2 separate regions of the Homo sapiens genome follow, and region 1 is reported to be linked to region 2. Evidence: microRNA targets listed by miRTarBase, many of them from high-throughput screens and not tested one by one. Region 2 holds a microRNA gene; the other region holds the end of a gene's coding sequence.
The links. The annotated mature microRNA hsa-miR-6720-5p reads UUCCAGCCCUGGUAGGCGCCGCG and lies in region 2 at 2,525-2,547, opposite strand. An mRNA with a match to its seed (bases 2 to 7 or 8) in the 3' UTR can be bound and repressed. Matches are read on the target gene's strand: a 7mer-m8 pairs with bases 2 to 8, a 7mer-A1 pairs with bases 2 to 7 and ends in A, and an 8mer does both.

Region 1 (4,000 bases), not on the chromosome of region 2:
CAAGGCTGGCTGGGCGCGGTGGCTCATGCCTGTAATCCCAGCACTTTGGGAGGCCAAGGCGGGCAGATCACCTGAGGTCGGGAGTTTGAGACCAGCCTGGCCAACATGGAGAAACCTCATCTCTACTAAAAGTACAAAATTAGCTGAGTGTGGTAGTGCATGCCTGTAATCCCAGCTACTCGGGAGGCTGAGGCAGGAGAATCGCTTGAACCTGGGAGGAGGAGCCTACGGTGAGCCGAGATTGCACCATTGCACTCCAGCCTGGGCAACAAGAGTGAAACTCCATCTCAAAAAAAAAAAAAAAAAGTCAAGGCCTTTGGCGCAACAACTGTGCTGGGAAACAGAGACTCCTGCACAGGCGCATGTGGCCTGTGCCGTCTTGGCCACAACAGCAAAAACCAAAGTATCCAAATGCCCAGGTGGAAAACCTTACCATGTTGAAAACTTTATTGTGGAGTCTCTAAAGAGAGAGAAACTTACCAAATATTAATATGATGGTCAAGACATGAATTTGTATGTATAGAATGATTACAATTATGTAGAAAAATACACCACACACTCGAGGCCTGGGGTTACTGGACACGGGTCATTTCTTCCCTGACTACATCATGGATTCCGGTCCAGAACTTCCAGATTGTCTACAAAATGCCTATCTTCATTTTTTTCACAAAAAAAAATTTAAACAAACACAAACACCCCACCCCCCTCCTCCAGGTGCTCTTATGAAGATCAAATGAGGTATTGATGTGACGGCTCTGGGTCTCAGTTTCCTCGTCTGTTAAATGCATATGAGAATTATCTAAGGTTCCTTCCTGCCCTTCTCTGGGGACCACAGGCCAGGAGGAGAACCTTGCATACAACCCCTCATTTTTCAGAAGAAAAAACTGAGAACTCAGGGGAAACTTCCTACCGGCTGGCGGGGCCAGCTGGGACAGAGAGATGCCCAAGGTTTGCATGTCTGAGCCCCAGAGGGGTTTCACCCACCCTCGGGGTTTTCACCTGCTGAGCTAACCCTGGCTGTAGCAAAAGATGGGGTGGGAGATGGGGGTGTCCAGGAGAAGATGGGGTGGGGGAGATGGGGTGGCCAGGAGAAGATGGGGTGGCCAGGAGAAGATGGGGTGGGAGATGGGGTGGCCAGGAGAAGATGGGGTGGGAGATGGGGTGTCAAGAGAAGATGGGGTGGGAGATGGGGTGGCCAGGAGAAGATGGGGTGGGAGCTGGGGTGGCCAGGAAAAGATGGGGTGGGGCAGATGGGGTGGCCAGGAGCAGCTCAGACTCCCCCAACTCCAGATGGAAGGGGAGTGGATGGCTGGGCCCATGTGGGCCTGACCCCACCAAACCTCTCCCACACCTACTGCTTGTCACTTGACCTCACCCTGTCACCTGGCTCCCTGGGGGCAGGGGCATCTGAGATGGGTTCATGGAGCAAATAGCCAGGCAGAGACCTGGATGTGAGTGGCCACTGTCTTCCAAGCTGGGCACACAACAGGTCCTTGGGACAGGAAGCACTGAGTCCAGAGGCCTGGCAAGGGACAGGAGGGGCAGGAGAAGCAGGGGTCTACAGGTGGCTCTGGTGGCAGCTCAGGGGGAGGCAGGCAGAAAACATCTGATGCACAGAACAGAACATGCCCAGGGCCCAAGAGTGGGAAAACAGCACCCAGAACTCCACCTTCTGACTCCTAGTCCAGTGCTCCCTTCCAAAGATGCTAAGCTGCAACAAGTTCCAAGGAAGCTGCCCAGGGCGAAGTCCAGGTCAGGAGGTTCTGACCCTGTGCAGGAGGGCAGGTAGGAGGCGGCTGACTGAGTGCACAGTGTCGTCCAGGAGTGGAAAGAGATGGTCTTGTCCCCAGACCCCAGAGCAAGGAACACCATTGTAAGAGGAGGGAGCAGCTTCCACTGTGACGGTGGGTGACCAGGGGGCTGGCACAGGATGGCCAAATAAGCCCAGCACTGGGGGGCCAGTGCTTCAGGGGAACAAGCCAGAGAGAGAAGGGAGTTCAAGGGACCTCATGTCCACCTGGTTCAAGGTCACACGCCTGCCCTGGCCTCTACACAAAGGAGCCTCCTGTAGGTCCCAGCCCTTCCATGTTTATGGCTAAATGTGCTGTGTCTTGGAGCAGCTGGAACCCCAGGTGGACCCTGAGAGAGCTACCTGCCAGCATGTTCCTTCAGCTCGAGTTTGGAGTCCAGCCCTGGAGGCTGCGCACCTCCTCCCAAATGCAGGCTTGTGGCTCTGGAAGCTGCCACTGGGGTCAAAATGGCATCTTAGGTTCTGGCAGATTGGGCCAATCTCAGGGTTGACCCTGGGGTACAGATACCTGAGAATCAGCAAAATCCAGCTCAATCTTTTCTCCTTTGTTATTTCTTAAAATAATCTTGTACTAAATCCCAAAGCAAGCGAACCCATGAATTGATTATTCACTGCTGCCATTTGCATCAGTTTAAAAGCAGGACGGCTCTGAGGGCAGGTATTAAAGAAATAGAGGCCAGGCCCGGCGCCTCCTGCCTATAATCCCAGCCCTTCGGGGAGGACTGCCTGAGGCCAGGAGTTTGAGACTGGCCTGGGCAACATACCGAGACCCTGTCTTTAAAAAAAAAAAAAGGCCAGCCACGGTGGCTCACGCCTGTAATCCTAGCACTTTGGGAGGCTGAGGCGGGCGGATCACGAGGTCAGGAGATCGAGACCATCCTGGCTAATACGGTGACACCCCGTCTCTACTAAAAATACAAAAAAAATTAGCCGGGCGTGATGGCGGGCGCCTATAGTCCCAGCTACTCAGGAGGCTCAGGCAGGAGAATGGTGTGAACCCAGGAGGCGGAGCTTGAAGTGAGCCGAAATTGCGTCACTGCACTCCAGCCTAGGCGACAGAGCGAGACTCTGTCTCAAAAAAAAAAAAAAAAAAAAAATTAGCTGGGCAAGGTGGAGCACCTGTAGTCCCACCTACTCAGGAGGCTGAAGCAGAAAGATTGCTTGAGCCCAGGCTGCAATTAGCTGGGGACCCATCGTTGCACTCCAGCCTGCGTGATACAGCAAGACCCTGTCTCAAAAAAAACCAAAACACAAAACAAGGCCGGGCATGGTGGCTCATGCCTGTAATCCCAGCACTTTGGGAGGCCGAGCAGGGCGGATCACGAGGTCAGGAGATCGAGACCATCCTGGCCAACATGGTGAAATCCCGTCTCTACTAAAAATACAAAAATTAGCTGGCTGTGGTGGTGCGTGCCTGTAATCCCAGCTATTCGGGAGGCTGAGGCAGGAGAATCACTTGAACCAAGGAGTCGGAGGTTACAGTGAGGCGAGATCGCGCCACTGTACTCCAGCCTGGCGACAGAGCAAGACTCGTCTCAAAAAAAAAAAAAAAAAAAAAAAAAAAAAATCAAACAAACACAAAAAACCACCCAACTACAAATTAGGCATCCTCCCACTTGGTCTTTTTTCAGATTCATTTTGGCTTAATGGTGCCTTCCCCATTTTAAAAGCGGTCTTTTACTCATAGTGCCCCAGCCTTTTGAAGGCACAGGAACAGGAGCTGGGCTACCACCTTCAAGGGCTGTCAAAGATGGTGAGGTCTGAAGCCAAAGGCAAGCACACCAAACTCCATGGGGGCTGAATGCTGTGGTCTGTAGTGTCTGTGCTTCTGCAGAGTTAGCCTGGTCCCAGAAAGAGGGCATGTGCATGCTGGAGTGAAGAGCTGAATTTGATTTCCAAGCCCCTGGCTGGGGGTCCAGAGGGAGGGCAGGGGCCACCTCCTGCCGGCTCCCTGCTATTGTTGCTCAGGGCCGGCCGTCTTGGTGGTCACCAGTTCAGTGGAGCCCAGCTCTGTGGCTGGCACAGGGACACTGTGGCCAGGTGGGGTGGTTCCTGGGTCTTCCCCAGGAGGAGGCCAGGCAGGAGCTGTGGCATCAGAGATTCCCGGAGACAGAATGATGACCTTGTCCAGGGGCTCTGGGGCTGCAGGCAGAGGGGGTAGAGGCTCCGTACTCAGTCACAGCCTTCCCT
Region 2 (4,150 bases):
GACGCCTGTTCAGCTAATTTAGGTTTTCTTTGTCTAATTACTGTGGAGCTTAGGGAGAAGGAGCCGGCTCAGGGCAGTAAACTGACACTCGGTCTCTGTGTGTGGTATCCAGGCAGGGTTTGATGGAAAAAGCCTGCTTCCACTCAACCTCAGGTCACTGTCTGGGGCCAGCCCCGGCCCACCCCCCTCCCACATACCCCTCCCCTCCCCACCCGCCCTCTCTGCATCTACAGCCCCACCAGCACACTCAGCCAGGAGCAGTCCCCCGGCACTCCAGGGGCACACAGGGCTCCTGCCGCCCCAGGGGGCCTGCCTAGGCTGTGCGGCTGTGAAGGCTCTTTGCCTGGTGTCTTCCTCCTGATTACTGCACAACCTCCCTTTCTCCTGCCTCCTGCAACTCCCCAGGCTCCCCAGCAGGCACACCCGTGCACCTCGGTCCTTTCAGCCTAGACGCAGCGGGGTGCCCAGCTCTACCTCCTGTTTGGTCCGCTGGTCTGCAGCACCTTCTTTCTGGGCCTCCCCCTTCAGCCCTTGGGAGGCCCCGCCAGCTCCGGCCTCCTGCTCTCCTCCTCCCTCTCCCAGCTCCTATCCCTGGTCGGACTACATTTCCCTGCACGTGTAATCCAATAACTAACTGTCGGGTCTCATTGGAAGTGATTGCTCCCGAGGGCACATCTCTCTCAGAGCCTGACTCTTACTTAGGGAGGAATTAGCCACAACTGGGGAGAAGTGTTCTCGGACAGGAGTTAGCTGAGACCTGGCACAGTTTTGGGTGGGCAATGTTAAGACGGAGGATGTAAACCTAGTGACAGCTGCACACCCCTTCAGGACTGACTATAAATATAGCCATCTCGCTTATCTCAGGGTCTTTCTTTTTCTTTCTCTTTCTTTCTTTTCTTCCTTCCTTCCTTTTTCTTTTGCACTTTTTTCTTACAGAACACTAACTGGGGTGCGGGGGTGGGGGGAAGAAGTGGAAGCAAATGCAACCCTAAGTCCCATGAGATCCAGGTTTCCAGAGTCTTTGAAACTTGGCCTAGGTTTCTCAGTGTAAATCCCTCTGCTCAAAGTTCCGAAAACGTCCACGATCGCCAGCGGCCCGCAACCCTGCGGCGGCCCCCAGTCGCCCTAACAATTGTCGGGGAGCCTGCAGGCCCTGCCAGAAAGAGAGAGGATTGGCACGTTACCTTTGGGCGTCTGGCACCCCGGCGTGTGGCTGAGGGCGGCAAAGTCTAAACGAAGTTGACAGATGGAGTCAGTATCGGCCCTGGGGAGGGCGGCCAGGGAGGCTCCGAGCAGCCGCACCCGCAGCAGCACCACTCGGCCCGGCGGGCCAGGAGGAGGAAGGGGGCGCGGAGGGGCGGGGCTGGGTCCTGGGATGGGACGCGGGGCTTGCTGCGGGGGGCAAACAGAAAGAATATTTCATGAAGTCAGAGGTGGTCGAGTTTTGCGAGGGGTGGGGGTCGTCCCCCTGGCAGAACCGGAGTGAGTCTGTGATCCCTCAATTGGAAAGAGGGTGAGTGAGGGAAAGGGGAGGAGGCCGCGAGAGGAATGAAGAGCGAGGAGACCCTGGAGAGCGGGGAGCGAGATAAGAGAGGGAGGCGGCCGCCAGGTCGGGAGGGGGAGGAGTGAGCGCGGCGGCGCGGAGCGAGGAGGGGGCAGGGCGGGGTGGGGGGGGAGGGAGGGAGGGAGGGAGCGAGGAGGGCGGCCGGGGAGGGCGAGGGAGGGAGGAAGTCCGAGAGACAGAGCGAGGAGCGCTCCTGAAGGGAGACGTCGGGCTCGTCCCCGGGGTCCAGGCCGCGGTCCCACTCGCGGGCGCAGTCGCCCGGCGCCGGCCGCTCGGCCCCGCGGCCTGGGAGGCCGTTGCGCAAGGCAGGGCCCGCGGCTCGGGGAGGGATGCGCCGGGCGTTGCCTCCCGCCCGCCGCCGCCGCCGCCGCCAGAAGCCCCAGAGGAGCTGAGGGAGGCGACGCCGAAGCGCTGGCCCGGAGTGGCCACGGCTGCAGCCCGGGCGGCGGGCTAGGGCGCTCGCAGGGCTTCTGGGCCGACCCCGCTCCGGCGCCTCCGCTTCCCGCCCGGGGCCCGCCCTCGCGGCCCGGCCTCGCTCCCGGGTCCCAGATGACCACCGAGGGCGGGCCGCCGCCGGCCCCGCTCCGCCGCGCGTGCAGCCCGGTCCCCGGCGCGCTCCAGGCCGCCCTGATGAGCCCGCCGCCCGCCGCCGCCGCCGCCGCCGCCGCCGCCCCGGAGACCACCTCCTCCTCCTCGTCGTCGTCCTCCGCCTCCTGCGCCTCGTCCTCGTCCTCCTCCAATTCGGCCAGCGCCCCCTCGGCTGCCTGCAAGAGCGCGGGCGGCGGCGGCGCGGGCGCCGGGAGCGGGGGCGCCAAGAAGGCGAGCTCGGGGCTGCGGCGGCCCGAGAAGCCGCCCTACTCGTACATCGCGCTCATCGTCATGGCCATCCAGAGCTCGCCCAGCAAGCGCCTGACGCTCAGCGAGATCTACCAGTTCCTGCAGGCGCGCTTCCCCTTCTTCCGCGGCGCCTACCAGGGCTGGAAGAACTCGGTGCGCCACAATCTCTCGCTCAACGAGTGCTTCATCAAGCTGCCTAAGGGCCTCGGGCGGCCCGGCAAGGGCCACTACTGGACCATCGACCCGGCCAGCGAGTTCATGTTCGAGGAGGGCTCGTTCCGCCGCCGGCCGCGCGGCTTCAGGCGGAAGTGCCAGGCGCTCAAGCCCATGTACCACCGCGTGGTGAGCGGCTTGGGCTTCGGGGCGTCGCTGCTGCCCCAGGGCTTCGACTTCCAGGCGCCCCCGTCGGCGCCGCTCGGCTGCCACAGCCAGGGCGGCTACGGCGGCCTCGACATGATGCCCGCGGGCTACGACGCCGGCGCGGGCGCCCCCAGCCACGCGCACCCTCACCACCACCACCACCACCACGTCCCGCACATGTCGCCCAACCCGGGTTCCACCTACATGGCCAGCTGCCCGGTGCCCGCGGGACCCGGGGGCGTCGGTGCGGCCGGGGGCGGCGGCGGCGGCGACTACGGGCCGGACAGCAGCAGCAGCCCGGTACCCTCGTCCCCGGCCATGGCGAGCGCCATCGAATGCCACTCGCCCTACACGAGCCCTGCGGCGCACTGGAGCTCGCCTGGCGCCTCGCCTTACCTCAAGCAGCCGCCTGCCCTGACGCCCAGCAGCAACCCCGCCGCCTCGGCAGGCCTGCACTCCAGCATGTCCTCCTACTCGCTGGAGCAGAGCTACTTGCACCAGAACGCTCGCGAGGACCTCTCAGGTAACGCAGCACGCTCCAGCCCAGCCAGCTGGGCGCACCGCTTCTAGGCCTCCAGGGCTGGCGGCCACTGCCACTCCCACAAACAGGGACCCCGAAGCTAGGAGGTCTGAGGGCACTGGGAAAAGCAGATGCTGGGGAAAGCCGGCATCTTATTCGTGGGAGCAGGGATCAGGGTCTTACTGTCCTCCCAGTATCCCTGGCCAGCAGCCGAAGCTTCAGAATTGTCTGGCTGCTGTGAGCGTGGTGTAAAGTCCCCTGCCTTCCTGGGCTCTTTGGGGATCCCTGTGCAGGAGACTGCAGGTCTCCCGTTCAGAGTCTCACTTAGCTTGGAGAGAAGGCATCTGGCCTTTGGGGAACTTGGTCAGGAAGCTGTGTCTAGTTCCTTTTGTCCCTTTTTTTCCTTGCGTTCATTTTGCTGTACTTCTGTCCCGAAGTAAATGTCAGAATCAGATATGTTCTGTATGTTGGGGTGTCTGCAGCGAGATGTTTGCAGCTGGGCAAGTGTTAAGAGGAGGGGGTGGGAGGGACAGAGCTGGATCCCAGGATCTTTCACTAAAGGGACATTTGCCAGTGGAGGGGGTCACCAAACTGTTGGAGACTCCTCCCCTTCCCTGCCTCCCCCCCCGCCCAACAATGGACCCACATTGATGATACAGGTCCTGGGTGGCAGGACCTGAAGGACCCTGCTAGGACTCCCCTGAGAAATGCGCCTGCCCTGTGGATGCCACTTGTAGTGTGGCTGGTTTACATTGTTCTGGTTGCAGATTATGAAAAATTATTGACTTGCTGAAGGCGGTGAAAGGTGGGAGGGGACGGTAGGGATGGAAGAGGGAATTTGAATATTTGACCAGGTTAATGTGAAGAAC

Region 1: miRTarBase lists TNFRSF13C as a target of hsa-miR-6720-5p. Seed matches in the 3' UTR shown: 7mer-m8 at 3,317-3,323, 7mer-m8 at 3,013-3,019, 7mer-m8 at 2,853-2,859 and 7mer-m8 at 2,186-2,192.

What each region holds. Positions count from the first base shown.
Region 1 is chr22:41,921,603-41,925,602 of GRCh38, forward strand. TNFRSF13C (TNF receptor superfamily member 13C) reads right to left here. Exons shown (of 3, transcript NM_052945.4): 3 at 430-3,952. The coding sequence ends at 3,765. MIR378I (microRNA 378i) reads right to left here and starts at 1,695; the gene lies at 1,620-1,695. RefSeq lists a silencer at 148-197 and enhancers at 668-717, 3,431-3,932, 3,933-4,000.
Region 2 is chr6:1,387,835-1,391,984 of GRCh38, forward strand. MIR6720 (microRNA 6720) reads right to left here and starts at 2,577; the gene lies at 2,480-2,577. It overlaps FOXF2 (forkhead box F2), which reads left to right and starts at 1,742. Exons shown (of 2, transcript NM_001452.2): 1 at 1,742-3,284. The coding sequence starts at 2,114. It overlaps FOXF2-DT (FOXF2 divergent transcript), which reads right to left and starts at 1,627. Exons shown (of 3, transcript NR_187218.1): 1 at 1,185-1,627. RefSeq lists an enhancer at 2,924-3,789.